Homo sapiens: one gene and its partners. The protein of the gene in region 1 interacts with the protein of each later gene in a biochemical or structural test. Each region holds a gene or a part of one and is shown in the gene's direction. Other genes may lie near its edges. The genes, in order: PDHA1, PDK1, PDK4 and PDP1.

What was found.
Region 2: the proteins of PDHA1 (region 1) and PDK1 form a complex in vitro, tested with the Homo sapiens proteins (2 studies listed by BioGRID, with this or other methods).
Region 3: of the proteins of PDHA1 (region 1) and PDK4, one has a biochemical effect on the other in vitro, tested with the Homo sapiens proteins (one study listed by IntAct).
Region 4: the proteins of PDHA1 (region 1) and PDP1 form a complex in vitro, tested with the Homo sapiens proteins (one study listed by BioGRID).

What each region holds. Positions count from the first base shown.
Region 1 is NC_000023.11:19,339,526-19,347,034, forward strand, and holds the start of PDHA1 (pyruvate dehydrogenase E1 component subunit alpha, somatic form, mitochondrial isoform 1 precursor), read left to right. Parts: upstream 1-4,401; 5' UTR 4,402-4,512; coding exon 4,513-4,569; intron 4,570-6,984; coding exon of another isoform or gene 6,985-7,098; intron 7,099-7,509. UniProt on the Homo sapiens protein: The pyruvate dehydrogenase complex catalyzes the overall conversion of pyruvate to acetyl-CoA and CO(2), and thereby links the glycolytic pathway to the tricarboxylic cycle.
Region 2 is NC_000002.12:172,566,057-172,573,242, forward strand, and holds part of PDK1 ([Pyruvate dehydrogenase (acetyl-transferring)] kinase isozyme 1, mitochondrial isoform 2 precursor), read left to right. Parts: intron 1-799; coding exon 800-877; intron 878-1,143; coding exon of another isoform or gene 1,144-1,160; exon of another isoform or gene 1,161-1,966; intron 1,967-2,684; coding exon 2,685-2,761; intron 2,762-4,669; coding exon 4,670-4,768; intron 4,769-7,186. UniProt on the Homo sapiens protein: Kinase that plays a key role in regulation of glucose and fatty acid metabolism and homeostasis via phosphorylation of the pyruvate dehydrogenase subunits PDHA1 and PDHA2.
Region 3 is NC_000007.14:95,593,476-95,601,390, reverse strand, and holds the start of PDK4 (pyruvate dehydrogenase kinase, isozyme 4), read left to right. Parts: upstream 1-4,874; 5' UTR 4,875-5,097; coding exon 5,098-5,227; intron 5,228-6,226; coding exon 6,227-6,368; intron 6,369-7,620; coding exon 7,621-7,692; intron 7,693-7,915. UniProt on the Homo sapiens protein: Kinase that plays a key role in regulation of glucose and fatty acid metabolism and homeostasis via phosphorylation of the pyruvate dehydrogenase subunits PDHA1 and PDHA2.
Region 4 is NC_000008.11:93,912,458-93,920,055, forward strand, and holds the start of PDP1 (pyruvate dehyrogenase phosphatase catalytic subunit 1), read left to right. Parts: upstream 1-4,465; 5' UTR 4,466-4,622; exon of another isoform or gene 4,623-4,761; intron 4,762-4,878; exon of another isoform or gene 4,879-5,126; coding exon of another isoform or gene 5,127-5,209; intron 5,210-5,453; coding exon of another isoform or gene 5,454-5,488; intron 5,489-6,638; exon of another isoform or gene 6,639-6,676; coding exon of another isoform or gene 6,677-6,686; intron 6,687-7,598. UniProt on the Homo sapiens protein: Mitochondrial enzyme that catalyzes the dephosphorylation and concomitant reactivation of the alpha subunit of the E1 component of the pyruvate dehydrogenase complex (PDC), thereby stimulating the conversion of pyruvate into acetyl-CoA.

The sequences.
Region 1 (7,509 bases):
ACAAGTGTGAGCTACCGAGCCTAGCCAAGATGTATGTATGTGTGTGTGTGTGTGTGTGTGTGTGTATCTTGAGGGGGGGAAATAATCATGAGTTTATACTGATATTTCCAATTCAAATTCAGGACCTCTTGGCTTTGACCTGTTGAATTTTACATTTGTGTCTCTGTTTTTTATACTGAAAATCTTGGTTCCCAATGGCATTAACATAATTATATATTTACTTTATCAGTGTGGGTATGTGCAGTCTTAAATAATAACACCTGACAAATGAGAACAATTTAAGATTTTTTTCTGTAGAGATGGGGTCTCCCTATGTTGCCTAGGCTGGTCTCAAACTCCCGGGTTCAAATGATCCTCCCACCTCAGCCTCCCAAAGTGCTAGGATTACAGGTGTGAGCCTCGCCTTAAGATTTTTTTTTCCAGTTCCTTTTGTCTTTAGGCTATACCCCACCAGGCATATGCAGTCACATTGCTGTGGTGTGAAATAACTTGAAATCATTCTCTGCGGGGTTATGCTGACAACTTGGTATGTTATTAAATTGGTTTGTTATATTTCATTTCCATTGTTATGTCATTGTGTTTTATGGTCGTGTAAAAACATTTATATGGTTCCAAAGTTAAAATGACCCCTAGCCATAATCCTTTCACCAGCTGCTGCTTAGTACCTCAAAGACATTTGCAAAGATTTGTTGACTTTTATGACACATGTATATGATTGTCCTACTCTAATTCATCTGCTGGGGGATGGGTGTTTCTTACTGGAAAACCGGAGACATGTCAAGGAGCATGATTTGCCTTAAAGCTCAGCTTGATCGAATACTTGTAGGGTGATTCGCTAACGAAAGGTAAAAAGGCATATTTCAGGGTCTCTAATCAAAATTGCCCTGCTTCACCCAGATACGTTTTTTTTGTTTTGTTTTTTAGAGAGATGGGGTCTCGCCCTGTCACCCAGGCCGCCATGCAGCGATGCCGCCATAGCTTACTGCAGCCTCAAACTCCTAGGCTCAAGCAATCCTCCCTCGTCAGCATCCCTAGTAGCTGGGACTACAGGCATGCAACACCATACCAGACTAATTATTTTATTTTTTGTACAGACGAGTATCACTTTGTGGCCCAGGCTGGCCTCAAACTCCTGGCCTCAAGTGATCCTCCTGCCTTGGTCTCCCAAAGTGCTGGGATTACAATTTCCCCCAAGATTAACGAGCCCTCCTTTCTTAAGACTTTCTCTTCCCGCCTTTTGCAAATCTTTCTTTCTCTCCGGCCTCCTCTCCTGATACAAGAGTCTTTTGTGAATGTTCTAGCGCGTTACTATAGCCTATAGTTATTATAGCCTATAGTTAATGACTATAACATTACTATAACGTTACTATAGCCTATAGTTAATGACTATTAACCACAATCATCACCTGTCACCACTTGACACAGCATCTCACAGTGTCCCTCACCTTCAAAGTTGCTTCCAACTCTGCTTTCAAATATCTGAAAACAGCTGGGCGCGGTGGCTCACACCTGTAATCCCAGCACTTTGGGAGGCCAAGGTGGGCAGATCACCTGAGGTCAGGAGTTTGAGACCAGCCTGGCCAACATGGTGAAACCCCGTCTCTACTAAAAAAATACAAAATTAGTCGGGCATGGTGGTGCTCGCCCGTTTTCCCAGCTACTCGGGAGGCTGAATGAGGAGTATCACTTGAACCTGGGAGTCAGATGTTGCAGTGAGCCAAGATGTCACCACTGTACTCCATCCTGGGCAACAGAGTGAGAATCTGTCTCAAAAAAAAAAAAAAAAAAAAGAGGCCGGGCGCAGTGTCTCATGCCTATAATCCCAGCACTTTGGGAGGCTGAGACGGGCGGATCACGAGGTCAGGAGATCAAGACCATACTGTCTAACATGGTGAAACCCTGTCTCTACGAAAAATACAAAAAAAATTAACCGGGCGTGGTGGCGGGCACCTGTAGTCCCAGCTACTCGGGAGGCTGAGGCAGGAGAATGGCGTGAACCTGGGAGGCGGAGCTTGCAGTGAGTTGAAATTGCACCACTACACTCCAGCCTGGGCGACAGAGCGAGACTCTGTCTCAAAAAAATAAATAAATAAAATATATATATATACACGTATGTGTGTATATATATGTATATATATGAAGAACAAGAAGTGCAGAGAAAATATCCTAGTCATTGAAAAATTGGTTACTTTGTTTCTGCACTGCAAAGTTACTTTAAACTTTGTAATGAATCTAGTGGAGAGATCATTTGAGATGAGGCAAATGTCCTGTTTCTCATCATACATTTACCCACTAATTTTAGCCTGTATTGATGATAATTCTCACCTGCAACAGTTACTGTGGTCTTTGCCAAATGGTGATTTTCTTTTTCTATTTTCATCATTCCTTCTATATTAATTAATTGGAATTCTACTGTAAGGAAAAGTTGTTCCTTCTAACCCATTGATTTGTTCAATCATGTATTTAAGTAGGACCTATATTTTACTTGTTCCTTGCTATATCTTCAGTGTGTAGTACAGTGTCTGACACAAAATCGGTGCTCAATAATAGGTGTTGGATGAATGAGCAAATGAATGAATGAATTCATATTCATATGGCCTACAGAGTTCCCGTACATGCACAACCAATATCACCACCCCGTGGAGATGACTCCCAAATTAATATTTTTAGCAAATGTTCCAGACTTACAACTCCAACTTCCCGGGGGACATCTTCAGATAGCTGTGCCACTGCCACCACCAGGTCAACATGTCCCAAACCATTCAGACCAGCTTTTTCTCCTGAGCTGGACATCTGGCCTCCAACCTTTTCATTCTCTTTTACCTTTCATATTCTATCAGCAGCAGCAGCTGCTGAAATCATACCATGCAAGTTTCTCACGTCCATCTCTGCCTTTTAATGGCGCCCTCTCACTCCTTTAAGAAGTTTTCTTCCACTGCAACACGATCTCTCAGTCCAGAGTCTGGCCCAGTGCCCAAATTATTTCTCTAGCTATGCTGAGAGCTGGTCATGCTTTGAACTTCTGCTTTGAATACTTTCAGTGACACTGGGAGAGAATTATCTCATTGGACCATTGTCATTGTTAGAAAATTCATTGTTATGCTGAAATGAAATGATTTTATTCACACACACACACACACACACACAAAATAGCTCTTCCTCCTGGAACATGACTGGCCTGAAAATGTGTGAAGACATATCCAATCCTCTCTGGTTTTACTGTTCATCCAATTTTCTGTTCTCCTCCTGGCAGGAGGATTATATTTCACCTTGTGGAACTCAGACATGGTCGGGTAACTAGCTCTGGTCCGTGAAAATTGAGAGGAAGTGACATGTGTCACTTCTGGGCAGAAGCTTTGAGAGCCGGTTTAAATGATCCCTTTTCTCTTCATCCATGAGACAAGCTAAGTTCCAGAGAGAGGGTGCCACGCTGTGAGGGACCTGTGTTACGAGTACGATGGCTCGCGTCACTTCAAATTCTTGAAATCACTGAAATTTGGAGGTCAGTTGTTACATCATAACCCAGCCAATTCTAGTTAGCCTGTTTTCTTCCTAACTTCTTTAATCGTTCTTCATAAGTCACAATCGCAGCCCCTCACCGTTCTGACCACTGTCCCCTGGATTCCACTCAGTTTACTCATTATCCCCCTTAAAATGTGGAGCCCAAATCTGAACCCGGAACCCCAGGTGCAATCCCACTAGGACACAACACAATGGGTTCCTGAGCCCTTTGATCCTCTGAATAGAGCCCCTTGTTGCTTTGGTGTTTTGTCTCTGTGTGTGCTTTTATCATCGGCTGAGCCACGCTGTTAACTCGCAGTGAGCCTGTGAACCAATAACTAGAGAAAAAAGATTTTTCCCATTGTCCTCTCGACATATATTGGGAAACAAATTTTTTGATCCGCGTTCAAGTAGACAGGGCAGAACTGTCCAACTGCTACGTGATCTTTTAAAGACAAAGTTAGTGGCAGACCATTTACAGAAACCAGATGTTCTGTCTTTTGGCTCTGAGCATGCTGCTAATCTTCATCATCTAGTGTACTGAACGAGATGTACTGAACGAGGGCTGCAGAGCTGCAGCACCGGCAGGAGTAGGCGCTCGGTAGGACGGGGCCTGCACAACCTCCCCGGTAGTCAGCAGAGCGGAATCTAGGAAGGCTCCTTTCCCGCGGCGCCCTGGAGGCGGGGGCCCCACCTTCCCACGCAGGCGCTATCAAGCCCCGCCTCCTCACCCGCCCGCGGCGTGGCGTCGGAAAGAGCCCTCAGCCCCTCCCTCTCTGGCGCTGATACCCAATGGGCAGCCTCAGGCCTTTAGCGGGGGCGGGGCACCCCCTGGACGCCGTTCTGGTTGGCCCGCGGCCCGGCGCAGCGCATGACGTTATTACGACTCTGTCACGCCGCGGTGCGACTGAGGCGTGGCGTCTGCTGGGGCACCTGAAGGAGACTTGGGGGCACCCGCGTCGTGCCTCCTGGGTTGTGAGGAGTCGCCGCTGCCGCCACTGCCTGTGCTTCATGAGGAAGATGCTCGCCGCCGTCTCCCGCGTGCTGTCTGGCGCTTCTCAGAAGCCGGTGAGACCTCCCGGGCGGGCCGGGATGGGGCGCGAGTGGGGCTGAGGCGGGGCCGGAGGGCAGGGCGGGCCAGGCCGGGCCACCCAGAGCGGGGTGGAAGGCGCCAGGGGAGCCGGGGAGCCTTTACTTCGCCTCCGCGCCCTGCATTCCGTTCCTGGCCTCGGGAGAAGCGGCACGGACCGGGATCACGCCAAGGTCCGTGTGAACTTCCCCCTTCTCGACACCCACCTCCCGCCCCCGGGCCCAGCTGTGCGCCAGGCGAAGTCGGTGTGCTCAAGAGGTGCCTGTTGGGTTACAGGACACGGAAAGGGTGGCCTCGGCCTCCTTCGAGTCTCCAATTGACCCCACTCATTTCGGATCTTCTAACTTAATTTCTCTTGACCGAGAGGCTTTGTAATAGCGTAGAATCTGGAGACAGGGTGGCTTCGTTCAAACAGCACCCTCACCATTGACTAGCCCTGTGACCTTGAGCAAGTTTTTAAACGTCCCGGGGACCCGGTTTCCTAAAATGTTTGCTCGAAGTGGAGTTAATCTCTAAATGGAGATAAGAGTTATCTCTGAAATGTTATCAGTTAACTCTAAAATGGAGATAATAAGAGTCCCCACCTCTTGGGGTTGTCTTGAGGATTCAACGAGTGACACGTGTGGAAACGATTCCAAATAGCACCTGGCACATAATCGATAACATGTGTGTTGAATAGTGTTATTTATTGAGTCTCCAGTTCGGTATACATTTCTTGAACACCTGTGCTCAGTTCTGAGGCGGGTTCACAGAAGGTCAGCCTCTTCAGAAACAAACTTCCTCCTCTTCCCTCTCCCTCAACATCTGAGCTTTTCTTGGCAGTGAGTTCAGGAGCGCCGAAGCAGAACTCAGAGGACGCTGCCCTCCCCTCCCCTTACCTACACATTCTTAGGGTACAAGTAGCTAAAGCAAAGAGCAACGATGCTTGAGGGGTGGGGGGTAGAGTTTAGCACTATTTCATGGCCTCAGCATTTAGAGGTGCCTAACACCTGAGCTAGCATTCTGACCCCCCTAGGCACAGTGAGGTCGTGTTAATTGGTGTAACTGCAGGCCTCGGGATTCTGGTATTTCCCCCAGGACTTGATACCGCTCTACTTAGTACAGGCAGAGATTGTCAAAAGGTAAGAGGTATGCCCCTCTAGGAATCCTGTTGCCTAAAATAATGACAAAACTGCCGGGTGCGGTGGCTCAGGCCTGTAATCCCAGCATTTTGGGAGGCTGAGGCAGGTGGATCACCTGAGGTCAGAAGTTCGAGATCAGCCTGGCCAACATGGTGAAACCCCGTCTCTACTAAAAATACAAAATTAGCCGGTCGTGGTGGCGGGCTCCTGTAATCCCAGCTACTCGGGAGGCTGAGGCGGGAGAATAGCCTGAACCCGGGAGGCGGAGTTTGCAGTGAGCGGAGATCGTGCCATTGCACTACGGCCTGGGCGACAAGAGCAAGACTCCGTATTTTAAAAAAAAAAAAAAAAAAAAAAAAAAAAAAGCGTTCCCTTTAGGGATATCTGTGGGTAGAGGGCTGTACCGGTAGTTACGGGCTCAGAAACATCCTTCCTTTAGGCACCTGATGTAGGTTTTCTTCTTCTTCTGCAAGTCAGGTTCATTGTTTCCTGTATCAGTTTGCAGGGTCCCCCCCCCCCCGCCACCTTACAGTAGGAAGAAAATTGAGTTCCAGATATGAAGTCACCTTTGAAAGTGCCCAGGTATCTTTCCACTTGGTGGTGTAAACTCTTCAGATAATTAGAAGTTTTCTGTGTCACTCAACTTGTCATGGACTAATTAGGAACCATTCCTGAAGCTTTTAAGGATAGAACTAAAAGTTTCACTTTTATTTTTTTAAAGGGTGGAATAATAAACTAACGTGTTGACTCTTTGTATTTTGTAATTCTTCATACTTATGGATGTCTTTTTACTTAACTATAAGTAACAAAATAGATCAACGTTTTAGTTTTTTATATTATACATGTAAAAAGACATTTTGCATATAAGCCTTTCACAAAAATCTTGACAGTAAACAATAAGCAGTGGCTCACCCAAATTAGGCAGACTTACTGCACTAGACTCCTACCATCTGTGTGATACTCCATGAAGGGAGGGAGAAGGGGAGGGAGAAGGGTAGGCAGCTGGTCTGATGGCTGTGACACAAGATAATCCCCTTAACCTCCCAAGACGCTGTGTGTTTTTTCCTTTTTTATTCTCCCTGGTTTACTTTCGTTTTGTTTGAGACAGGGTCTCTGTGTCACCCAGGCTGGAGTGCAGTAGCAGGACAGCTCACTGCAGCCTTAGCCTGCTGGGCTCAAGCGATCCTCCTGCCTTAGCCTCCTGAGTAGCTGGGAACACAGGCATGTGCCACCACCACACCCAGCCAATTAAAAAAATTTTTTTTTTACTAGAGACATGGTCTTGCTACGTTGCCCAGTCTGGTCTCCATCTCCAGGCTCAAGCAGTCCTCCCACCTCGGCCTCCCAAAGTGCTGGGATTACTCTCACTCTCTTAAAACCAGGCAGGTAGGGAGATTTATCTCAGGCTTAAAGATTGCCATTGTCTCATCAAAGAGTGTTTGGTGTGAAACTTTGAAATGAATATCAAGATTGTGTTTTTATTTTTGAATAAGGTTTATAGTTTTCATAGTTCTTATTTCATGGAAGAAGATTGAATGCATTTAAAATGTTATTTTATTGTTTGCATTTCTGTATGGCTCCTTTTGTGAGATCTTTACTAGCAATGTTTTGGCTTTATAAGTGGTAGGTAAGAGTTTTAATTTACACTGTTAGAATCTGGAATTTTTGAAACGTTTTTCCTCTTTCACATGAATGGTTCCTATGTATTTAGGAAGTTAAAGTTTTACTTTTTTTTAATTAATTTTTTTTTTTAGGCTGGAATGCAGTGGCACAGTCATAGCTCACTGTAGCCTCAGG
Region 2 (7,186 bases), on another chromosome or scaffold:
CCAAAAAGGTTTCAAACAATGGATAAGAGTGTTTCCTAACCAACTCTTAAGTTTTGTTACATAGATAGCAATTATTTTCTCCAGCCTGTTATTTTTCTTTTTTACATTGTTGGTGTCTTTTTAGCATATAGACTTTTACATTTTTTTTGTAGTTATATTTGTCATTCATTGTTTATGGCTATTCAGCTTTGTCATGTCACACTTAGACTTTCCCTGGGCCAGGCACAGTGGCTCATGCCTATAATCCCAGCACTTTGGAAGGCTGAAGCGGGTGGATCACCTGAGGTCAGGAGTTCGAGACCAGCCTGGCCAACATGGTGAAACCCCCTCTGTACTGAAAATACAAAAATTAGCTGGGCGTGGTGACCCATGCCTACGTAGTCCCAGCTACTTGGGAGGCTGAGGCAGGAGAATCGCTTGAACCAGGGAGGTGGAGGCTGCAGTGAGCCGAGATAGCGCCACTGCACTCCAGCCTGGTTGATCGAGACTCCGTCTCAAAGGAAAAAAAAAAAGGAAAGGCTTTCCCTGGTTGGGGGCAGTGGTTCATGCCTGTAATCCTAGCACCAAGGCAGGAGGATGGCTTGAGCCTGGGAGTTGGAGACAAACCTGAGCAATATAGGGAGACCATGTCTCTACCAAAAAAAAAAAAAAAAAAAGCAGACTTTCACCAAACTATCAAAGTATATTTTCTTCTGTAGAGAGTTCAAGACTTTGATTTGTCAATACCATTGCCATCTTAATGCGTGAAAGAGAAGTATATTTATTAAATCCTTTTTTGTTTTGTTTTGATTCACACTAGATGGCTATGAAAATGCTAGGCGTCTGTGTGATTTGTATTATATTAACTCTCCCGAACTAGAACTTGAAGAACTAAATGGTAAGCCTGATGTTGTCTTTTTCTCAATAATTAGTGCTTTGATTACTTGATAAGGGATAAGAATTTAAATGTTTTAATGGAAGATGACTTTTTATCAACTTCGTTGGATATGAAGGCTAAAGGATAGTAATCATGTAAAAAATATATCTATAAACATATGTAATTTAGTCAGATTCTTTATGAAAAGATTTGGCTTTTTGTATCACATTTTCTTTATTTTTAATTGATAACTTTGATTCTTTGCTTATTTTTTATTTTCTGTTTAGTCATAGAAAGAAAATGATACCAAGAAAGTTACATTTGACTTTTACATGCACTTCACTAATGTAAGACTTACCCTTTTTCTACTTCCTGAGTTGTAAATAATTTTCTGTTGTTGAGGACATAGACTGGGGTTATAAAAGAGGAAAGAAAGATGCTCATCTATTTGAGAATCTGTTTGTCTCTGATGGTTTTCTTTTTACCCTGATTAGTGCCTTTTGGACAAAAAGGGTTTAGATGCCTTGAAGAGGGATTGATGAGTCTCTTTTTCCTGAAAGCATGGTAGTTTGACAGAAAAAAGCATTTCCTAAGATGACACTTTAAGAAGGTGTGGGAAGAATAAAACAAAATAGGCTTTTACTAAGCTGTATTCTGGACCTTAGAGTGAGAGAGCAGTGAAGTTATGCAATTGAAAATAGCATTGCTTGGTGATTTTCTAAAGCCATATTAACTCTTTTGAGCCATGATGGTAGCATAGCATTTGGTAAATAACAATCACAGTGTACAAGTAAGTGATAGTTTGCAAACCTGAACTGCTGTGAGCAATTTCCAGATGTCCCATTTTTGTTCCCAAGGGGGAGTTTATTCAGAGGAAGGTCTGATTTATTGGTTGAATTAGAATTCTAAGATATCATGAGTCTTAATCATTTGTTCTACTAAATGTCTGTTTTATACACACCCCTATCACCACCCCCAGTGGGGCTCCTATTAAGTGTTTAAATGTAGAATTAATTACTGTCTCGAGAAATTGATGCTAGCTCATATTTTTTATTCAGCTTTATATCCATCGAAATGCCTGAAATAAAACAATATTCCACCCAGGTGAAACATTTTGAAAATGGCTTAAAGAATGTATGGGCTGGGCGCAGTGGCTCACATCTATAATCCCAGCACTTTGGGAGGCCGAGGCGGGTGGCTCACAAGGTCAGGAGTTCGAGACAAGCCTGGCCAATATGGTGAAACCCGTCTCTACTAAAAGAAAAATCAGCCAGGCGTGGTGGTTGGCGCCTGTAATCCCAGCTACTCGGGAGGCTGAGGCAGGAGAATTGCTTGAACCTGGGAAGTGGAGGTTGCAGTGAGCCAAGATCGCGCCACTGCACTCCAGTCTGGGCAACAGAGCAAGACTCCGTCTCAAAAAAAAAAAAAAAAAAAAAAAGAAGAAGAAGAATGTATGCATGCATGTGAATTGGACTGTGGAATTTAAAGATTTTAACACTTCTCTATTTGGAAAGTAAAATTCCTACCCGAAAGTTAAGCGATCTTAAAAAAGACTTTACCATCCTAGAGAAAAATGGGCGCATGGGTTGGTTCGATTGTGATGCAAGATTGTGAGAAGTGACCACAGGACTCTTGTCATCATCAGTTGTAAATATTTGTGGGTATGGGTTCAAACACTAATACATTGAAGAAATGGTGTGGCAGTTCTCCCCCAGGTAATACTGTCCTCCGTAGTTAATGTTTTCTTTTCATCACTACACAGTTTATTCTTAAAAATGCTTTAAGCACATCTCTCTGTACTTTCATATTTTTCTCTTCTGCTCTGTAGCAAAATCACCAGGACAGCCAATACAAGTGGTTTATGTACCATCCCATCTCTATCACATGGTGTTTGAACTTTTCAAGGTTTGTAAAATAGTATTACATAACCTTTACCAGTACTTTTCTGAGGTTAGGAATCTGCTCTGAAAGCCAAATATTCCACTAGGTTCTCCTATTAAGAAGTGCCATTTCACATCAGTATCATATCACATTGCTGGAGATCAGCTTTTTATCAACACAGGGAGACATCTCCATGTAGTGGTGAGCTCAGACTATGGAGTCAGAAAGACCTGGGTTTGAATCCCAATTATGGCTCTTAATATGTGTGTGACCTTGGGCAAGTCACTCAACCTCTCTGAGCCTCAGTTTCCTTTTCTGTAAAACAAGAATACTGTCCAGGATTGTTTATGACTATTGGGAATAACATACTAAGTGTCCAGTACAGTGGCAACGTATTACATATAGGTGCTCAATAGAGTTATCTTTATGTTTTTATAAAACAATATTTAGAAGAGTGATTCTCAACTTGCTACCCTCAAAGGACCAGAATTCTTTTTTTGGTCTGGCTTTTCTTGGGAGGGGGAGGTCATTTATATTGACTTACAGGGTTTCTGCTGTAATCTTTGCTCTTTACAACAAAATTTGAAAACAAATTATGCTACTAATATTGAGAGTATCTTTTTTCCCCGCCAATAATACTTGCTGGTTGACAAGAAAATGGGTGAGGAGTGAGGGGCACAGGTCCTGGTGGGTGAAAATGATTGCCCTCTATCAGAAGCTTGTAGTCTCTCTTCAGTTGTGTTTCATCAGCCAGCAGCAAACTAGAGGAAAGAGGGGGTGGCTTTCAATCTGATAATGTAAAGGAAAAGTGCACTGAAACACAGAAAAACTGACCGAATATCTTAGAACAGCAGCAGAATGTTCTTTCTTCCAAGACAGCAAAAATGTATTTAATACCTTACAAAATCTTTTTTAAAATATTTATTTTATTTTTTGTAGAGTTGAGGTCTCACTCTGTTACCCAGGCTGTCCTTGAACTCCTGGCCTCAAGCAGTCCTGCCCCAGAGTGTTGGGATTACAGGCATAAACCACTGCACCTAGCCCTAAAATCTTTTTATCCAAGTAGTTAAACAAGTAGTGATGGGCACTTCAAGCATTAACACGAATTTTTTCCTTGAAATTCCAGTGGCATAAAGATCTTGTGCCCTATGATTGAGGCACTCCGTATTATATTGTACATAATGTCAGTAATAATGGCTTTCACCTGGAACCTAATCTTAACCTGCCTTTGGTGGAAATGATGGAATCTCCTCCATAAGAGGACTCAATCGCAATTGCTGTGCCAGGGCCACACACTCTTACTTCCAAATTCGGATGCCTTTTTAGTTACATCTAGTTTATATCATTTTCTACTGCAATGCTGAATGTCATGATATTGTTTAAGGCTTCTGATATGTTGGCACTGTGTACCCTATTTCCTTTAGAAATTAGTCAAAGCAGCTTTACAATGACAATACCCTTAATTTCAAACTAGAGATAAAGGGATTCATTGCTCCATCAAATACGACCATCGCTGTTACTACTATATGAAAAAAATTGCTTTCCTTTAAAGAAATTTATGACAGTTTTTTAAATAGTTCTAAAAATATAGCTGAAACTACATTTTCAAAAATGTTTTGCCCATCATTTACTAAAATTATAAAAGTGTTTGAACAGAGTTTTCTGCTTTAATGTAACTAGTTAAAAGTGTTTTGAAGTCTGACTTTGGAAAATAAGCAAAATTTAGTTGGAGTCTTTAGGTCAGAATATCCTTCAAATCCCCCCCAAATTGACTCCATTAAAAAAAAAACTTTAAATGTGGTTATAAGAATTGTGATTCTTTGGCATATTTCCATCAAATTTTAAAACTTCAAATAGTGCATATGTACTTGAAAATTACACTTTCTCTTTTCTAAAAAGCTGTATTTTTAATACAACCCTAATGTATTTCAGAATGCAATGAGAGCCACTATGGAACACCATGCCAACAGAGGTGTTTACCCCCCTATTCAAGTTCATGTCACGCTGGGTAATGAGGATTTGACTGTGAAGGTAAATGTGTTTAATGGTTTGTTTTCTTTTTTTTTTTTTTGTAATTGATGAACAGACATGCAAAGGTAACCATACGCATAATTTCTAAAAGACATAATCTACTCTCAGGGGAAAAGAATCTTGTCTGTAATAGATAATAAGCACATTGCTTCATTGAGCTGGTGGATTATAGTTATCCCTTGAGTCTTTTCTATGCAGGTCCCCCGTCGAGGTGATTCAAGTTAAAATAAATCTTGGAGACAGACAATTTATCATTAATATCTCTTTGATAAGTAAGATCTAAAATATTTGGGTAGTTGCAGTATTATGGAGATAGTATTTTATATATAATTTAAAAAATTTTAAAACAGTGCTTTCTAATCTACTGGTTTCATTTGATTCTCATGACGTAGGTAATTTTATCCTCACTTTTACAGGTGTGGAGACTAAGACACAGTGATTAGCTCAGGATCACACAGGGCAGAAATGCTATGGGACATGATATCCAGTCTTCTGTCCCCAGTGCTAGGCCTTTTCTATTACATTGTTCAGGTGGCCCAGTTTCTTCTTTTACATTTTATTAAAAATTGTTTTCTGTCACCCAGGCTGGAGTGCAGTGGTGTGATCATCACTCACTGTGACCTTGAACTCCTGGGCTCAAGCAATCCTCCTCCCATGGCTTCCAGAGTAACTGGGACTGCAGGCTGCAGGCATGCAAGCCTGGCTAATTAAAAGAATTTTTTGGTGGGTAGAGACTAGGTCTCACTTTGTTGCCCAGGCTGATCTCAAAACACCTGGCCTCAAGTGATCCTCCCACCTTGGCCTCCCAAAGCACTAGTATTACAGGTGTGAGCCACTGTGCATGGCTCCAGTTTAAGAGTATGATAGTGTTTTTCTTTTTTAATAATCATTTAAAAATTTATATTAAAGTAATAAATGCAGAGACTATAAAAATTCAAATGTGTCAGTTCCTGGCCCTTTGTAGGCCTCATTACTCAGAGATTCTTAGTCTTTCTTTACTTTTTTTTTTTTTTTTTTTTTTTTTTGAGATGGAGTCTTGCTCTGTTGCCCCAGGGTGGAATGCGGTAGTGTGATCTCGCCCACTGCAACCTCTGCCTCCTGAGTTCAAGTGATTCACCTGCCTCAGCCTCCCGAGTAGCTGGGATAACAGGCACCCGCCACCACGCCTAGCTAATTTTTTGTATTTTAGTAGAGACAGGGTTTCACCATATTGGCCAGGCTGGTCTCGAACTCGACCTCGTGTTATCCGCCTGCCTCGGCCTCCCGAAGTGCTGGGATTACAGGCATGAGCTACTGCACCTGGCCTAATGTTTACATTTTAAACAGTAAATATTACCTTTCTGTTATAGTAGTTGAGGAGTTAGCTCTCTTTAATAGAGCACCTGCTCCCCTCCCCTCCCCTAGCCCAAGGGCCAGTTTCCCTATACTATTATCCCAATATTTAAGTTTGTATATGAAATTCGAAGCTGAGAATAATCATCCTGCAAAATTTTGAAGGCATCCATTGTTCCTTTTTTAAAAAAGGTACAATTCAGTGGAATTCATAAGGTTATTCAAGTATTGCCGCTGTCTCATTTTAGAACATTTTCATCAGTCCTAAGAAAAAACCCAAGTACTCCGTCAGGCACAGCAGCTCATGCCTGTAATCCCAGCACTTTGGGAGGCCAAGTTGGGCAGATTGCCTGAGGTAAGGCGTTTAAGACCAGCCTGGCCAACATGGTGAAACCCCATCTCTACAAAAAATACAAAAAATTAGCTGGGTGTGGTGGCAGGCGCCTGTAATCCCAGCTATTCAGGAGGCTGAGGCACGAGAATCGCTTGAACCCAGCAGCAGAGGGTGCGGTGAGCCAAGATTGCACCACTGCACTCCAGCCTGGGTGACAGATTGAGACTCCATCTGAAAAAAAGAAAAAAAGGAAAATACGCAGTACCTATGAAGTCACTTCCCGTTTTTCTCTCTTCTAGCCCTTGGCAACCACTGATCTATTTTCTGTTTGTGTATTTCTCTTTCTGGGCATTTTATATAAATTTAATCATGCAGTATGTGGTCTTTTGTTACTGACTTCTTTCACTTAGTATAATGTTATAGTATGCATTTGTACTTCATTCCTTTTTATGACCAAATGATATTCTGTTATATGGATATAACACCTTTGGGTTATCCATTCATCAGTTGATAGACATTTGGTTTGTTTCTATTTTTTGGTTATTATAAATAATATGGCTATGAATGTTTGTGTACAAATTATTGTGTGAACATGTGTTTCAGTTATCTTATGTATATACCTAGGAATTGAATTGCTGAATCATAGGAAACTCTGTTTAACTTGAGAAACTGCCAAACTGTTTTCCAAAGGACCTGCACCATTTTGCATTGTCATCAACAATGTGTGAAGGTTCCTGTTTTACCTCGTCCTT
Region 3 (7,915 bases), on another chromosome or scaffold:
AGAGAACTTTAAAAAATTATTCATTAACAGATTTGACAAAGCCTAGAGATACTACCAACAGATGGCTCTTTTCGTTCCCTCTCCTCACTGCTCCAATGCCTTTCTTCTTTGTCTGCCTATGAATGTCTGCTCCACCTTTATAAGTCAGATGACCTATGACTTCCTCCAAGGAAGCCTCCCCTGGCTGCTGCTTGTCCCCCCAGTACACATACCATATATGCCACATTCTATTTTTTAGATTATTTTCATGTCTGTCTCCCGTCTTTGAAGACAAACTATGCCTTCTTCATCTTTATGTCCTCAGCATTAATCACAGTGCCTAGTACATAGTAGGTGTTCAATAAAGTTTAGTAGAATTATTTAACTGCTAACAAATTTAAACAGAAAACACATTGCTCCCTGATTTAAAGGCTTCAACAGTTCCCTGCTGCTTACTCTAGAAATCTCATAGACCTCATACTAGCATTTCAGGCTTTCATGAGATAACTGAATCTTCCTTTCCTTCTGCCCTTAGGGTACTCTAGACAGCAGCCAGGTGAAACTAGTCATTATTTCTCCAATGTATCTCTAGCTCCTACATCTGTGCTTTTACTCAGTCTTGGACATTTTTCCCCACTGTCTACCAATTATTTGCCAAAATCTTGCTCATCTTTCTACAGCCATCCCAAATGCCAATTCTAGTAGCATTTCCTGATCCCCAACATAGCTCTTCCTCCAAACACCCCAGATCACCCTTAACATATCCACTGTCTGGCACCATCACTACTACCACCAATACCACCACAACCAGCATTGCCCATGGCGTGAACCTTTCTTATGGGCTGCTTTTTAAATGCATTTAATTATAGCATTTTGCCCTGAGGATTAAATGAAAATCTAATAAATTAAAAATAATTAGTTATTGTTTTCCATCATCAGCTAATAATCTGAGGTGCATGAGAGCAGACGCTTTTGCACCCATCAGGGCACCCAGTCCAGCTCCTGGCACCTAGTATCCTCTAGGTTAACAGTAACTATAAGAAACATCAGAGACCAAATTGTGGGTTAGATCCTGCTTTTCCCAGTAGCTTCACCAATATGCTTTCACCAGTATTCCCTCTCATCCCCAATAGAAGCTCATTCCATTTCTTTTAATTGTCGTTTACTCAAGAAGACCTTCCTTGACCACCAAATCTAAGGTAGTTCCAGCCTATTACACTCTTCACAATCATTTTCTTCTTAGCCCTTGTCCTATCTTAATGTATAGGCTTATTGGCCATATGCTTTTGTAATGCCAATTTCCCCCACAAGTCTATCATCTCCATGAGGGAATAGATCATGACCGAATGGTTCCCTACTGAAACAGCCATCTCTTAAATCATCATTTGTCTATTACGTATTCTGTAGATATGTTCTCCAAGTCTGCTGTTCATATTTTAACTTTAATATTCTATGGTCAAGTCTGTTAATCTTTCCATCATGTCTTCAGAGTTCCTGTTACGGGCATTTTAAATTGCTTCCTTGGAATACGATCCTGAGGTGGAAAAATTGTATAGACTTCCCTTTAAGGGATCTGATGGATTTTATCAAATTGGCCATCCCCCACCCTCTGGAAAAAGTGTGACTTGCATTCTCAAAGTTCTACCCGTGGCCTTTTGTTATTAGATTTTTTCCAGGCAAGCTGGACAGAACTTATTTAATGCTAGGTAAGGTGCCACTGAAAATTTTAGGAACCAGGTATCTCAAGCAGGGATGTTCAGCATTGTATGCAAGGGAACAGCTTTGATTACTTCTTCTATTCCTTAGCATTAGTCATTTAATAGTCTTCTCATGGTTTACTTTTACTCAAATGAATGCATGGATTTGTCATATCCATTGCCCCCAAATAATATTTTTGCTTCACCTCTGTCCCAACTGGATCACCTCCAAGATTTGTGTTCAACCTGAGAAGAGAAGTGCCACTCTTTTCCCAGGTCACTCTCTAATCATGGTAATACATAGCATCTTAGCCAACTGGGTAAACAACTTGACCTGACCTTTCTAGGCCAGCTATCATGAATGCTGCCAATTATAATAACAGTTCCCATCATACAGAAATGACACAGAAGAATGCAATGCACTGTGAGAGTAACTTCATAAATATTATTAGAAGGGATGACATAGAGACAAAATTTTGGCAACCTCAGTTCACATTTAGCCCTAGGTCATCTCTGTGAACATCATATGATTTCACCTGATCTTTAATCAGCCCACAGCACATAGAATAGTAGTGCTGGGTAAGCTAGGCTGGGCAATCAATGTACTTAGGGACATGGGACTTTCCTAAATTAGACTTGCCTGTAATGCATAATTTCCATTGCCTTTCCTCTGAAAATCAGAGTATAATTCTTTGTAATATATATTTTTGCTTATTCCAGGTTCCATATACAGTGAGAAAAGCAAATGCATGCTTTACTTTTACTTATGTTCTTAAGACCCAATCTAAGAAAAAGAAGGGATTTTTACCTTAAATTTACTTGCTTCATCAAAGAGAGTCTTATTCAGTTTTTTGGCTACTTGAACACATTTCGTTGCTGCATCAAGCTATGCAAATATTTAATAAAGGATTCCAAGTACAAAAATATAAATAATAGTGGCATCAAAACCTGTCTACAAGTGGAGATGCAATTTGGAACTTGCCCATATTCCCACAGCTGTTTCAGCTTAAGATAAGTGCTTGAGCTGTTGTGTTTTTGGTTTTTTTGTTTTTCTGTCCCACTCAAGTGCAACTGCTAGAGTCTATACTTGGATCATCCTTGAATATTCTCTAAGAACCCAGGCCCCATCCTCTTCATTGGAAGATCATAAATATTGCATGTCTTCACATAGCTGTTTCTCAAAGGTCTGAAAAAAATATTTGGTCATAACAGGAAGTCTCAAATTCTCGACCATCTATAGGTAATGTATAGACAATGGGAGAAATAGTAGGAGAGCTAATATGGTGCCTCCAAACAGGCCACATAACTGACACAGGGTTTGCCAGGACTGTTTCAGATCCCTCATAATGGTGTTGATTTTAGAGAAGCAAAATTGATACCTATTAGACATCCAAATGGAGAAACCAAATAGGCAATTGAATAGGAGAATCTGGCTCTTGGAAGAAAGTTTGTGCTAGAGATAGAATTGGAAATCTGTCCTGTGATTTAATGCAGTCTCCTAGACGAAGAGGGCAAAGGATGACAGCAGAGCCTAGGATCACTCATGACTTTCAGAGTTGCCCGTTCTGCTTATAAATGCAGGGCAGGCTGGGCGCAATGGCTCACTCCTGTAATCCCAGCACTATGGGAGACCGAGGTGGGTGGATCACTTGAGGTCAGGAGTTTGAGACCAGCCTGGCCAACATGGAGAAACCCCATCTTCACCAAAAATAGAAAAAATTAGCTGAGTGTGGTGGCGTGTGCCTGTGATCCCAGCTACTCAGAAGACTGAGGCAGCAGAATCGCTTGAACCTGGGAGGCCGAGGTTGCAGTGAGCCGAGATGGCACCACTGCACTCCAGCCTGGGAGACAGTGTGACTCTGTCTCAATAAATAAAGTAATTAATTAATTAATTAAAATAAAATAAACGCAGGGGGAGGAGGCCAAAAAGGTTTTTTATAACAAACTATCATTTTTAACACCTCATAAATTCCCATTCTATTACATTTGTAACCAACTCTCTTACTCCCAACTTTCCCAAACACGGTGGCTTCATTCCCTAGTCCTTTTAGAGTGTCGGGAGAGGAAAAGGAGGTTAGTATGACAGGGTAATGTGTCTCAACCACTGTCATTAATTTAATAAATATTGAGTAGTGAAAAAGTAGGAATCACAAAGCTGCATCAGACAGGGTCCCTACCCTGATCTCTTTCAGGAAAGGGGGGAGTCAGAGAGGGATAATATAAAAACATAAATAGCTATAGAATAGTACCATGAAAGACCAAGGCCTTATTTGGAAGAAGTGAGGAGAAGTAATCAAGGAAGACCTTTTGCAGCAGACAGCTTGTGCCAGACATTTGAGGGTAGAATGGAATGTCTTAGGTAAAGATTTGGAGTAAGGACATTTCGTACAGGGCAGAGTGAACAAATTCTCTGATCACCGCAAAAGGTAAGGCAAACTGACAAATTGATCCCTTTTTAATTTTGTTTTTAATTAACAGAACTAAACCTAACGGAAAGAATGTGTTGCCGGAGAAGAACGAATTGATGGCCTTTTATTACCACAGGAAAAAGTAAATGTATCTGGGCAGCCCCTCAAGTCTCAGCAAAAGGAACGTACAGTTCCTGCCATGTGCCGGTCTCTTCTGAAGAAAAGGGGGCGGTGGGGGTGGGGGCGCAGGTCTTTAGGTTGTTTATTCCTTTCTCTCTGTCCAGTGGCAGAGAAGCCCATACTTTTGAACGCAGCTTGTTGGCTACTGTAAAAGCCCTGCTCTGAGCAAGGACCAATGAGCACGCGGAGTCCAAACTCTTGGAAACAGTTTGTGGCCAGGAGTACTTGACATTGAGACAGCCTCCGAGTTGTAAACAAGGGCGAGCCTGGGCGGGACCCCAGCCCACGCGACTCGGAGCCCCGTCCCAAGAGGCTAATCTTAAGCCCACGTTGCCCCAGATACCTGTTTCTGCTTCCTCTTCCCTGTTCTTCCCACCCTTTTTCCGTCACAGCCGCGGGCACCGGTGCCAGGGCACTCCGTGGTCACCGTGCCAGGCCATTCTGTGATGACCGCGGCTGGAGGGGCGGAGCCCATAGTTCTTTCTCTGATCTGATTGGCGCGACCTGGAGTTCAGGACGCGTTTCCAAGTTCCAGTGACTCCTCCTGTTTGGGACTCGGGGGGAGAGTGCGGGGAGACAAATAAAACCTCGGGCGGCGGCGGCTGGTGGGAAGACTTGAACTTGAATCTCGAACCACTGCATCTCCGACTCTGCCCAGACTCTTCACTCCGCGGCACCCTCAAACCCCAGCCCAGGCCGGGGCGCACAAGCCAGCCAGCGCACCTGCAGTCCTCGCCCGGACGCGCCGCGCCCCCTCGGAACCAGGCTCTGCTCCGAGCAGCCTTCGCCCCTCAAGCCAGCCACAGTCCCCGCCAGGCCGGGTGGGCGTCAAGATGAAGGCGGCCCGCTTCGTGCTGCGCAGCGCTGGCTCGCTCAACGGCGCCGGCCTGGTGCCCCGAGAGGTGGAGCATTTCTCGCGCTACAGCCCGTCCCCGCTGTCCATGAAGCAGCTACTGGACTTTGGTGAGAGGGGACACAGGGCCCAAGCTGGGTCCTAGGGTTGGGGAACTGCCTTAACTTTCAGCCTTGGTAGAGGGAGGGCTAGGCTCAAGCTAAAACAACTGGGGTTCACTTTGCTGCTGAGCCCTGGAGCCTCGACGCCAGCACACCTTTCCTTTTCCTAGATTTGGTTACTTTCTGACAGGGGTGCCTCCAGGTCAAGGCCACCTGCAAGCCTGCCGACGCTGGATGGTTTGACTTCATCTGCACACTCTTCTTTCTGACCCGCTCTTCCAGTCAAAATACTTTTTGCTTTCGGTCACCGTTTAACAATGGACTGGAAACTTTATCCTCTCCTTCACAGCATAGTACTGCTTGGAGAAGTTTCTGAATAGTATTAAATAGCCTCAAATTAACAGATTTTATTCCTTAGCCACCTGGCATCCTTCCACAGGGTACATCTCTCTGCATTCCTGACAGATTTCTTTGTCTCTTTATCATTATAGTTTTCCATATATTTGCATTGTTGCTGAAAATATTTACACATTTGTTGCAGTAATCTTATAAGGAAGATTTCAAGGGTTTAAATGTGATATCACTACTCTGGAAATATCACAGCTCCCCCTCCAGCCTCTTATCCCCCAACTCCAATTCCATGTCCCCACTCATTAAAGGATGTTGTGTTGTTGACATTGTGGTGTGACCGAATCCTGCAGTCTTTTATAAATTCTAAGAACTGTGGGATATTCTTACTTCTTGGAAGTGAATCCTCTTCAAAAAGAGAAGACAATAATTCTCCTATATCTGTCACTTTTTAAAAGAAAGAAGGAAAGACGAAAGGACGAAGGGAATTAGTCAATTAAGGAGACAATCGCCCCTGAATTATCGATTAACAGTAACCCAACTGAGAGTGAAATATAATTTTATAATATATGTGTGTTCAATATTTGATAGTTAATGCTATTTAGATATATCATTTAGACACACTTTTTCTCAAAACTAAATTGATTTCATTTATTATAGGTTCAGAAAATGCATGTGAAAGAACTTCTTTTGCATTTTTGCGACAAGAATTGCCTGTGAGACTCGCCAACATTCTGAAGGAAATTGATATCCTCCCGACCCAATTAGTAAATACCTCTTCAGTGCAATTGGTTAAAAGCTGGTAAGTGGTGAACCATATTGAAGTCTCTAGTTTTGAAACAGTTACCCGGGTATGAATTCTTATACTATGTTAACATCATAATTGGAAAACAGGTGATCTGAATGGTAACTACTTTTGAAAGATGTAAGAATTTTAAAATTAATTTAGGGTAAGTTATCATTAGAGAAGTTATAAAACTATAAACAGACATTTTTACCCTGAAAAAGTAGATTACTTTATAATAAAATTTTGAGTTCTAGGAAAAATTTGAAAAAAATTGGCATGCAATTTTAATTTTCAATTATAGAAGAGCACTTTCAATAATAAAAGAGTTTGATATTGCAAAAGAAATCCTATGCCTAGAAACCAATTCACATGACTGCTATTTAGGGAAGGCCTAATCTTTGTAACTTACAAAGTGATTGACAGAGTGGGCTCTGGGTTCAAATCCTGCCTCTGTCACTTCTAGTTGTGGAATCCTTGGCAAGTGTCTTAAACTCTTTATGCCATTGAGTTATTATTCCCATCTGTTATTAAAGAGATTAAAGTATATGCCTCAGAGGGATGTTTGAGTGTAATGAAATGAGATAATCCATAAAAAAGAAAAAAAAAACCACTTAGGACAGCACTTGGCACACAGCCAGCAGTCAGTAAGTGTCAGTTGTTGTCATCTCATTTTATAAATGAAGATACTGATGCTTAGAGAAGGTAGGTAACCCAAAACAGCAAATTTTTGGGTCACAGAAGCAGGATATGCACAGGTAGCAGACATGCATGAGACCCTTATCTTAATCCACTGACTGCACAGCCTTTTGTTCATTGATTCAAGAAATACATGTATTATATACCTATAAGACAATTACAATCTAAAACATATATTCAATCTGTAGTATTTACTATTGCAGTCAAGACTTACACTCTTCTATGAATGAATGTAGTAGAAAAAAAATAAAAAGCTTTAAAAAAAGTTGTTTCTAAGTATTATTGCTAGAAGAAATGAAAATATTTGCCAAACAAAACAGTCAGGAAACTGAATACTGACCTGAAATAGTTAAAGAAACATTTTGCGTTAAATTTTAAGTTTGAAAGTCAAGGATTAAAAGTTATAGCATTTTAAATTTATATTATTTTCCAAATGTTCTGGAGGAAAGTTTTAAGTTTGAACATAATGCTTACTTTCTCTTTTCAAATTATTTGAAAAAGCTATTCTATTTTCAGCCATTTGTATCTGACTATTAATTTTAAAACTTAAAGCATACCTGTTTCTTTACAGGTATATACAGAGCCTGATGGATTTGGTGGAATTCCATGAGAAAAGCCCAGATGACCAGAAAGCATTATCAGAGTAAGCTCTATGCATTAGAATAAGTGTTTAAAACTTTGGTTCTTTCCAGATAGATTCCTAAGATATTTTTAGACCTAAATTAAAGGAATTCAGCTCTGAATAATAAATCACTACCCTCTTACACATGACAAGTTTTGGCTTGTTGGTTTTTCAGAAGCGAAGAAATATGGCATTGAAAATGATGCTGAGTGTGAAGAAATGTAGAGGACTCATTTTTGATCCC
Region 4 (7,598 bases), on another chromosome or scaffold:
GTCCTCCACCTCATACCCTCTGTGCTTTGGGGAATCCACCTACAGAATTATACTGAATAAAAAATTAATCTTGCCAAATTGCCTGATGGCCAGATACTAACACCAACACCTACCTCCCCTTTCATCTCTCCCCTCTTGCCCATACATGTCACCTTTAGTATTTGAAGATAGCCTAACTAACAGGAATTTTTGAAGTATGTGCCAATCTCAGGTCCACAGGTATGCAATACTCTTGGTAAAGCACTTGAATTCTATCATTACGCAACCCCAGACACCTACTTTTTGTATTCTCTGTCATGTTCAATTAGTACACAGAAACTTACTGCCTGCCAGCCAAGAGCCTTTGGTCTCTCATTTTGTAAGAGAATAAAGCTTTTCCCCCCTTGAACATTCTATTGTCTCATGAATTCTGATGAGAATGGATTCCTTTCCAAATATAAAATCAGACAAATGTGAAAGCATCTAGAACAGTCTCTGGTCCAAAGGAGATGAACCACAGTACGTGTTGTTTCTTTTGTATAGATGATTCGTCAATCTCACTGCTAACTCCAAACAACTTAATTTCAAAGAAGGAACTCCCGACACTGACATGGTAATAAAACAGGTAGCCATTCTTTAGTTACTTGGCAATTTCTTGCTGATTTCCTAGCCAAGACCTGTAGGGAAACAGGTGCTAGAGGAGTATGGTAAACCAGCCTCTTTCCCCTGTGACTGCTGATTTTGGCAAAGGCCACAGTAAATCAGTAACCATCAGGGTGAGGGCATCTCAGACCCACATGCAGGTTTATTTTAAGCTTCTTGGCTGGCACCACTGAGACTGCTGGATCATCTCCATGTTGTCAAAGCTAACCTCCAATACCCCTAAGGGTCTTATCACCTGCCCCCAAGAACATCAGGCCAATCTGATCAAGCATTGCTCATTTTCAAATCCATCCTAGGGCAAATGGATGACTAAATGTTAAGGTTCATATTCAGGAAATGTCATTGCATTTTTGTTTATCACAGAAAGCATTTGTGTAAACAGGTGATTTTGCACATTGCTTTCTTAGTACCATACTATTTTTGAAGCCCCTTCCTCTCTCCTTCCCTACCTTCTCGACAACGTTCCTGGGTTGTTTCAGTGCTGCTTTCCAACACTTTCCAATGTTGAAGTATCAACAAGTGCTCTGGTGGCTAAAACAGTCTGGGGTCAACGCAGTAAACCCAAGGACCTGTTCTGGCCCTGGCCAGTTGGCCATGTGATAACAAACAGCACTTTTGAAGCAAGCCCAGTGGGTGGCTAAATGGAGCTCCATCTAGAAACAGGAACAAAGCCAGGCCAGAGGAGAATCAAGGTTGAGATACTAAAGAATCTCCTCCAGTTGTACCAGCAGTTGGTACCTCTGCAGAAGGGTAGTTTATTTATAATATACCTCTCACTGAACCATACAACTTTACAACCAGAGGACAAAACTTATACCTGTAAATGAGATTATTTCAAAGCTATCACTTTAGGAAGGCTTTATTCTGATTTCAAAAACACCTTGGCATTCAATACTTATGTCAAAATTCTTTTGACTATATTTAGTGGTGGCAAATACCAGTTTTTTTGAGAGTGGGTGTTATTTTTAGAAATATCCAGGTCATTCAGAACTAAGAAGAATAAGATGGGAATCAATACTATTCTGGTATAAAACCAAAGTGTTGGTTATAGTAAAACAAGTTGGAGTTTCCTGTGCAGATCTGAAAACAATTTGAAAAGGGAGTTTTAAAAGTGCTCTGAATAATGGCAATGTCAGTGTGGAATAAGGGTTGCTACTAAGGTAACAGCTTTGAAGAGGTCATTTGATATGGATGTTGGACTCTGTTTTTTTTTTGGAGATGGAGTCTCACTCTGTTGCCCAGGCTGGAGTGCAGTGCTGCAATCTCAGCTCACTGCAACCTCCACCTCCCAGATTCAAGCAATTCTCCTGCCTCAGCCTCCCAAGTAGCTGGGATTACAGATGCCTACCACCACACCCGGCTAATTTTTTGTATTTTTAGTAGAGATAGGGTTTCACCATGTTGGCCAGGCTGGTCTCAAACTCCTGTCCTCAAGCAATCCACCTGTCTTGGCCTCCCAAAGTGCTGGGATTACAGGTGTGAGCCACCGCACCTGGCCTGGATGTTGGATTCTTACTACTCTATTTCACAACCATTAAAAAAAAAAGCTTTTTGTTTTTTTTGAGACGGGAACTTGCTTACTCGCCTAGGCTGGAGTGCAGTGATGCATCACTGCTTACAGCAGCCTCAGCTTCCTGGGATCAGGCAAGCCTCCTGAGTAGCAGAGACTATAGGCAGGCGCCACCACACCCAGCTAATTGCTTTTTAGATTCTTTGTAGAGATGAGGTCTATGTTGCTCAGGCTGGTCTCTGGGCTCAAGCAATTCTTCCGCCCCGGCCTCCCAAAGTGCTGGGATTACAGGCAGGAGCCCACCAAGCCTGGCCAGGAAAAAGTTGATAAGACAACAGAGAAGTCTAGTATGTACTTCATTTCTGGGTCATAAAGCAGAAACTCTTAAAATTCCACTCACAGCTTCAGTTAAGTGGGTCTCTATGTCCACAAAGTAAGGGTTAAGAGGCAGAGATCCTCTATATAAATGAATTTAAACTGATATTCTAAGGTTCAAAGATTCTCCATTCTATTAATAACTTATTAGTACCTAACAATAGAATATAATGCACTTGGGGGCCTGGGTCTCCTACTTGCTAGGAGTTCTTAATCTAAAACACTGACCTGGACATGTCGATAATATCAAGAATAGCTAACACTTATATAACACTACATGCTATGTACTTTCTTAGCAAGCTATATATGTCAACTCTCTTAATACAGCCCTGCTATTACTTTTTACATTTTTATCTTATATGTGAGAGAATGAGGCATGCAGAGTTGCCCATGACCACACAGAAAGCTGCAGAGCTGGGAATGGAACCCAGCCAGCTTGGCTCCAGCTGCACTCTTAATCACTAGGCTACACCATCCTATGCATCTATGAAGAAGAAACCAGATACTTAAATTAAATGACAGGAAGAGTAGTGGAGAATATTTGCAATTTATGGGAAGCCCATTTGAGAAGCAAAAAGGAGAGGATGAAGGGAGGCAGATGGACCTGTAAAAACTGGGATGAAGGCCAGACAGACTAGCCACAAAAGTTCCATGGGTAACCTGGGGATGGGCAAAAACAGTCTCCTCTAGTTTATTTAGAGAACAGAGAATACAGCAACTTGAAAGATCCAGGAGTTATAAAGGACCAGTTTGGGTATATAACGTTTTTTATTACATAAAAAGAAATTCACTCCACATCATTTTGTGAACCTGACTGGCTAGTAAGAAGTTATGTGTAATAAATCAAAGTCAACTTATTGGTGAACACTAGGGAAGATAAGTGCAATGCTCTATCTGCCACTGCCAAGGAAGCTTTCAGAAGCCACTATCCCATAAAAGGGATGTATGGATGTAAGTCACTGAAGAGCCCTCGAAGATATCTTGTTTTACCACAGACAATACCAATGCCACCTTAAGTCTAATCTCATCTGAGGTGGAAACAATCTCATGGAACAGAAATGGGACTTAGAGCAGGGAATGACTTGGATGAAAGTTTTCTGACTCCAAGTCCAGTGTTCTCTCCTTGTAACCATTCAGGGCAACGGAAACAATACTGATTTCAAAACTCCTCAGAGAACGTGAGCACACATCTACGCTACAGAGATAATTCCCTCATCACAACTCCCTCTTGCTGCTGTCTACACCTGCTTCCTCTCCCTGGGGCGATAGAAAACATGATGGGCGTTAATGCTCCTAAAATCTGCAACGTATCAAACGAACGAAGCAACAGCTACTCTCGAGGTTCTTTGCTACGCCTTGTACCGCAGGCTGGGGTGAGCCGCAGGGAGTTGAGGTTCCCGTGAGGCTGGGAGCCGCTCCCGCAGCCTACCCTGGGAAGCCCGCACCCAACCGCGAGGCGCAGGGGAGGCTTGGCCGCTGGGCCGGCCACCCACACCACCGCATCCCCGCAGAGGTGCCAGAGATTCTAGGAAGCCTGCACGACAGGGGAGCAGCCCGTTCCTCGGGCCCCATGCACGCGAAGACATTGGAGCCGGCCCAGGCGCCTCCCCTCTCCCGACCCCGCAGCCTGCTCAGCCAACACCGCCGAGCTCCACAGACCACCGCTCCCTAGCGCCGCGCAGCCACACCTTCCACTCGCTGGGGGCGGGGGGGGGGGGGTCACGTGAGGCGGGCCCGGGGAACCAATGGGCGGCTCGCGCCGAATGGAAGGGATTGTCTGACCCCCGTGACGTCACAAAGCTGGCGGGGAGCGCGCTCCTCTTCCGCCCCCGCCCCACCCCCGGCCGCAGCCCTCTCCGCCTCCCCTCCCACTCGTCACTGCGCAGCCAATCGGCAGGCGGGAAGCACTCCGGCCCGAACGTGCGGGCGGGGCAGGGTGGCGGCCCCGCACGGTAGGGGAGCAGAGTGGGCAGGCCGGGGGTGAGGGCTCGCGCTCCGGGAGCTGCACGGGGCTGCGTGGAAAGAGCGCCGAGCGGTGGCGTCGTTGTCGCCCCCTCCTCGTCGGGAAGAATCGTTTGGTCTCCTGCCGTGCCCGGTTCGTATTCCCTACTCCCTGCCACGAGCCGCCCCGTCCGGGATCCTCCACCCGTCCAAAGTTGTGAGGGGGCGCCGGGCGTGCTCGCGGATCGGCGGCCGCGGGCGTGCGGAGGGCTGGACGAGCCCTGGAGCGCCAGGTGCGCGCCGGGCGTCCGGGCTGTGGGGCGGGCGTGGCGGCGCTGGGGGCCGTCGGGGGGCTGGGGGCGGGGGCGGGGGCGCCGTGCAGCCCTAGCGTCTTCCGGCCCCTGCGCTCCAGCTGTCAGCACGAAGGGCGCCGCGGGGCCGGCGGCAGAGTGAGCTCCAGGGAGGCTGTAGGGCTGCGGCACTGCCTGAGGGTCTCCCTGACGCACCCCGGGTCAGGGCTGGCCCCGCTGGCAGCCTGACACCGGCCGGCCCCTGTTCGTCTGGACTGAAACGGGCACCCCTGGGGCGGGGCCGGGCCGGGCAGGGCGGGGCGGGCAGCGGGCGGGGCTGCAGTCCATGGGCTTCGCGCCCCGGCTGGATGGAGGGGCTGGCCCTCGGGGCGCACCCCTGCTCGCGCCTGGGCCCCGCTGCCTTGGGCTGTGGCTTTGCCTCCCCGGCGGGGTGGGTTGGTTTGGTTGGCTTCCTTGTTCTCTCCACCCCTTTATCCCTCCTCCATCCTCTTCCCCCCCACCTCCCAGCCCATTCACCGGGCTGGAGCGAGACCTCGCCCCTCCTCCGCTCCCGCCTCCCCGCCGCCGCCTCCTCTAATGAGCATCTCTGCCTTGCTTTCAATGGGCCGGTGCTGCTGTCGCTGCTGCTGCCCGCGCGGGTTGTGGATGTTGTCGGCTCCGTGTTGTGATGACAGGAGAATGTGTGTGTGTCCCGGGCCCAGACGAATTGGTAGGTATTCACTTAACTACCTGCGTTGGGTACCCAGGAAGGATGGTGACAGATTTTTGTGTATGGATGGTTTTAGATGAATCAGCGTGGTATTAAGGGATGAGATAGATTGGAAAAAGGGACAAACGCGTCTTGGATTGAGATAGCTTTGATGTCTTTGTGAGTGCAGTTTTTCAGGTAGCGACAAAGGAAACTAATCAAAAAAATACTGGCGTGTGGTGCTTCGTATCTTTCTTCATTTATGTAAAAAGATAGCAGGAGCTGTGAAATGGCTAGGCATTTCCAGAAAAATGTTGAAAAATCGCGGATGGTCTTTATGTAGAGTGTTTAATGCAATCGGATTACATAAACTGGGGTTCCGACACATTAAATGATTAGCATAGCTTTTCTTTTTCATTTACATCAGAAGCTTTGCAAAGCTAAAGGGCTCTGGAGTCGGTGCCTTAATAGCATTTGCTAATTAATTTGGTCCGTGGGTCTATTGATGGAGTGGAAAAAATGTCTTGGCACAGGCTCTGCTAAGCACATCAGTAAGAATGGACGGCTCTCTTTCCTGTTTCTGGTTGCAGTGCATCTTTCTTTATTAGTCATTGGCAAAATCAGCCCAATCTGCCTGGGATGAAGATGCTACATACAACGTGGCTGAGTCTAGATCATGGAATAGGAAATTTTCCGTGAAAATTGTGATCAAGAATAACTTGCAAATTTGACACTGCTCTGTTTTACCAACAGTTGTACCTGGATGCTGTTCTTATTGCCTGATCAAGAGCCTTCTACACTAATTTAACAAGCTTGTCAGCAAAAGTTATGATGTAGAGTGTTTTCTTGTTGTTGAATCAGTGGATAATCTGAAGGATATTAAGAGTTTTTCATTGCTTACTTATTTATGAAAGCATTTGAAAGTACTTTGACTCCCAAGGGTATCTGATCTGATGGAGAGAATGTATCACTTGTACCGATGCGGATAGAACGCTCATTAATTACAGCACAGTTTTCATAAATTCCAACTTCCCTAGGAATTTTGTCTTTTGAAGGCATGTTGGAAGTTGGGGCATTAGGATATAATCTCAGTCCATGTACTAAGCCTCTGCATAACTGAAAGATAGAGTCAATAAAATTCACTCTCTCATTTTTTGTTTTTAATCTCAAGAATTTTTGCCTTGAAGGAAAAATGTAGTGGAGAATTTGATGTTTGAACGTAAGTATTGTTAAAAGCACCTGCTGTGTCAATCATTGCTTTTTGTCACTAGATTTCATTCATTTTGCAGTCAATTACAAAAGTAGAAAAGATGTCATACCAAGCCGGGTGCAGTGGCTCATGCCTGTAATCCCAGCACTTTGGGAGGCTGAGGCGGGTGGATGGCCTGAGGTCAGGAGTTCGAGACCAACCTGACCAACATGGTGAAACCCCATCTCTACTGAAAATACAGAATTAGCCGGGCAGGAGAATCGCTTGAACCAGGGAGGCGGAGGTTGCGATGAGCTGAGATCACGCCATTGCACTTCAGCCTGGGCAACAAGAGCAAAATTCCTCCCCCCGCTGCCCTCCCTCCCCCCCCCCGGCAAAAAAATGTCGAAGCAAAGGAATTTAAGGAAAGTGCAGGTTTCCAGGACTTGTTATTCCTTAATTAAACAATCAAACCCTGTTATGCATCTATCAACCCTCCCTCCCCCCCACACAAATAGTATTTTGAGTCAGTTTACGTTCCATACAGGCACATTTTCATTGTTTTTTTCTGTAAGATTCTTAAGTTTTAAAGAAAGAGCAAATGCAGTCATAAAATTATGAAGAAAAATTCATTAAGATTACATTAGTTTACATTTTTAATGATAGAAAACCTTTATTCAAAGCACAAAATGAGTTGATATGCTTTCTGCACGCAAACCTAAAAAGAGATATGGTTTAAGTATGGAAGCCACTGTCATGTGGCCCAACATTTGAGCACATCTTCTGGCTCAGTCATGTACACTTAACCTCTGGATGACTTTCAGGTATTCAGTTTGAATTTCTTTTATTTAAATGGTTACTCCTGATGGATTCCCGTTTTTCTGGAATTTCTGTTTTTCATTAGTGCATTTCAGAATGCTTTTTTAGTTACGGATTCTTATT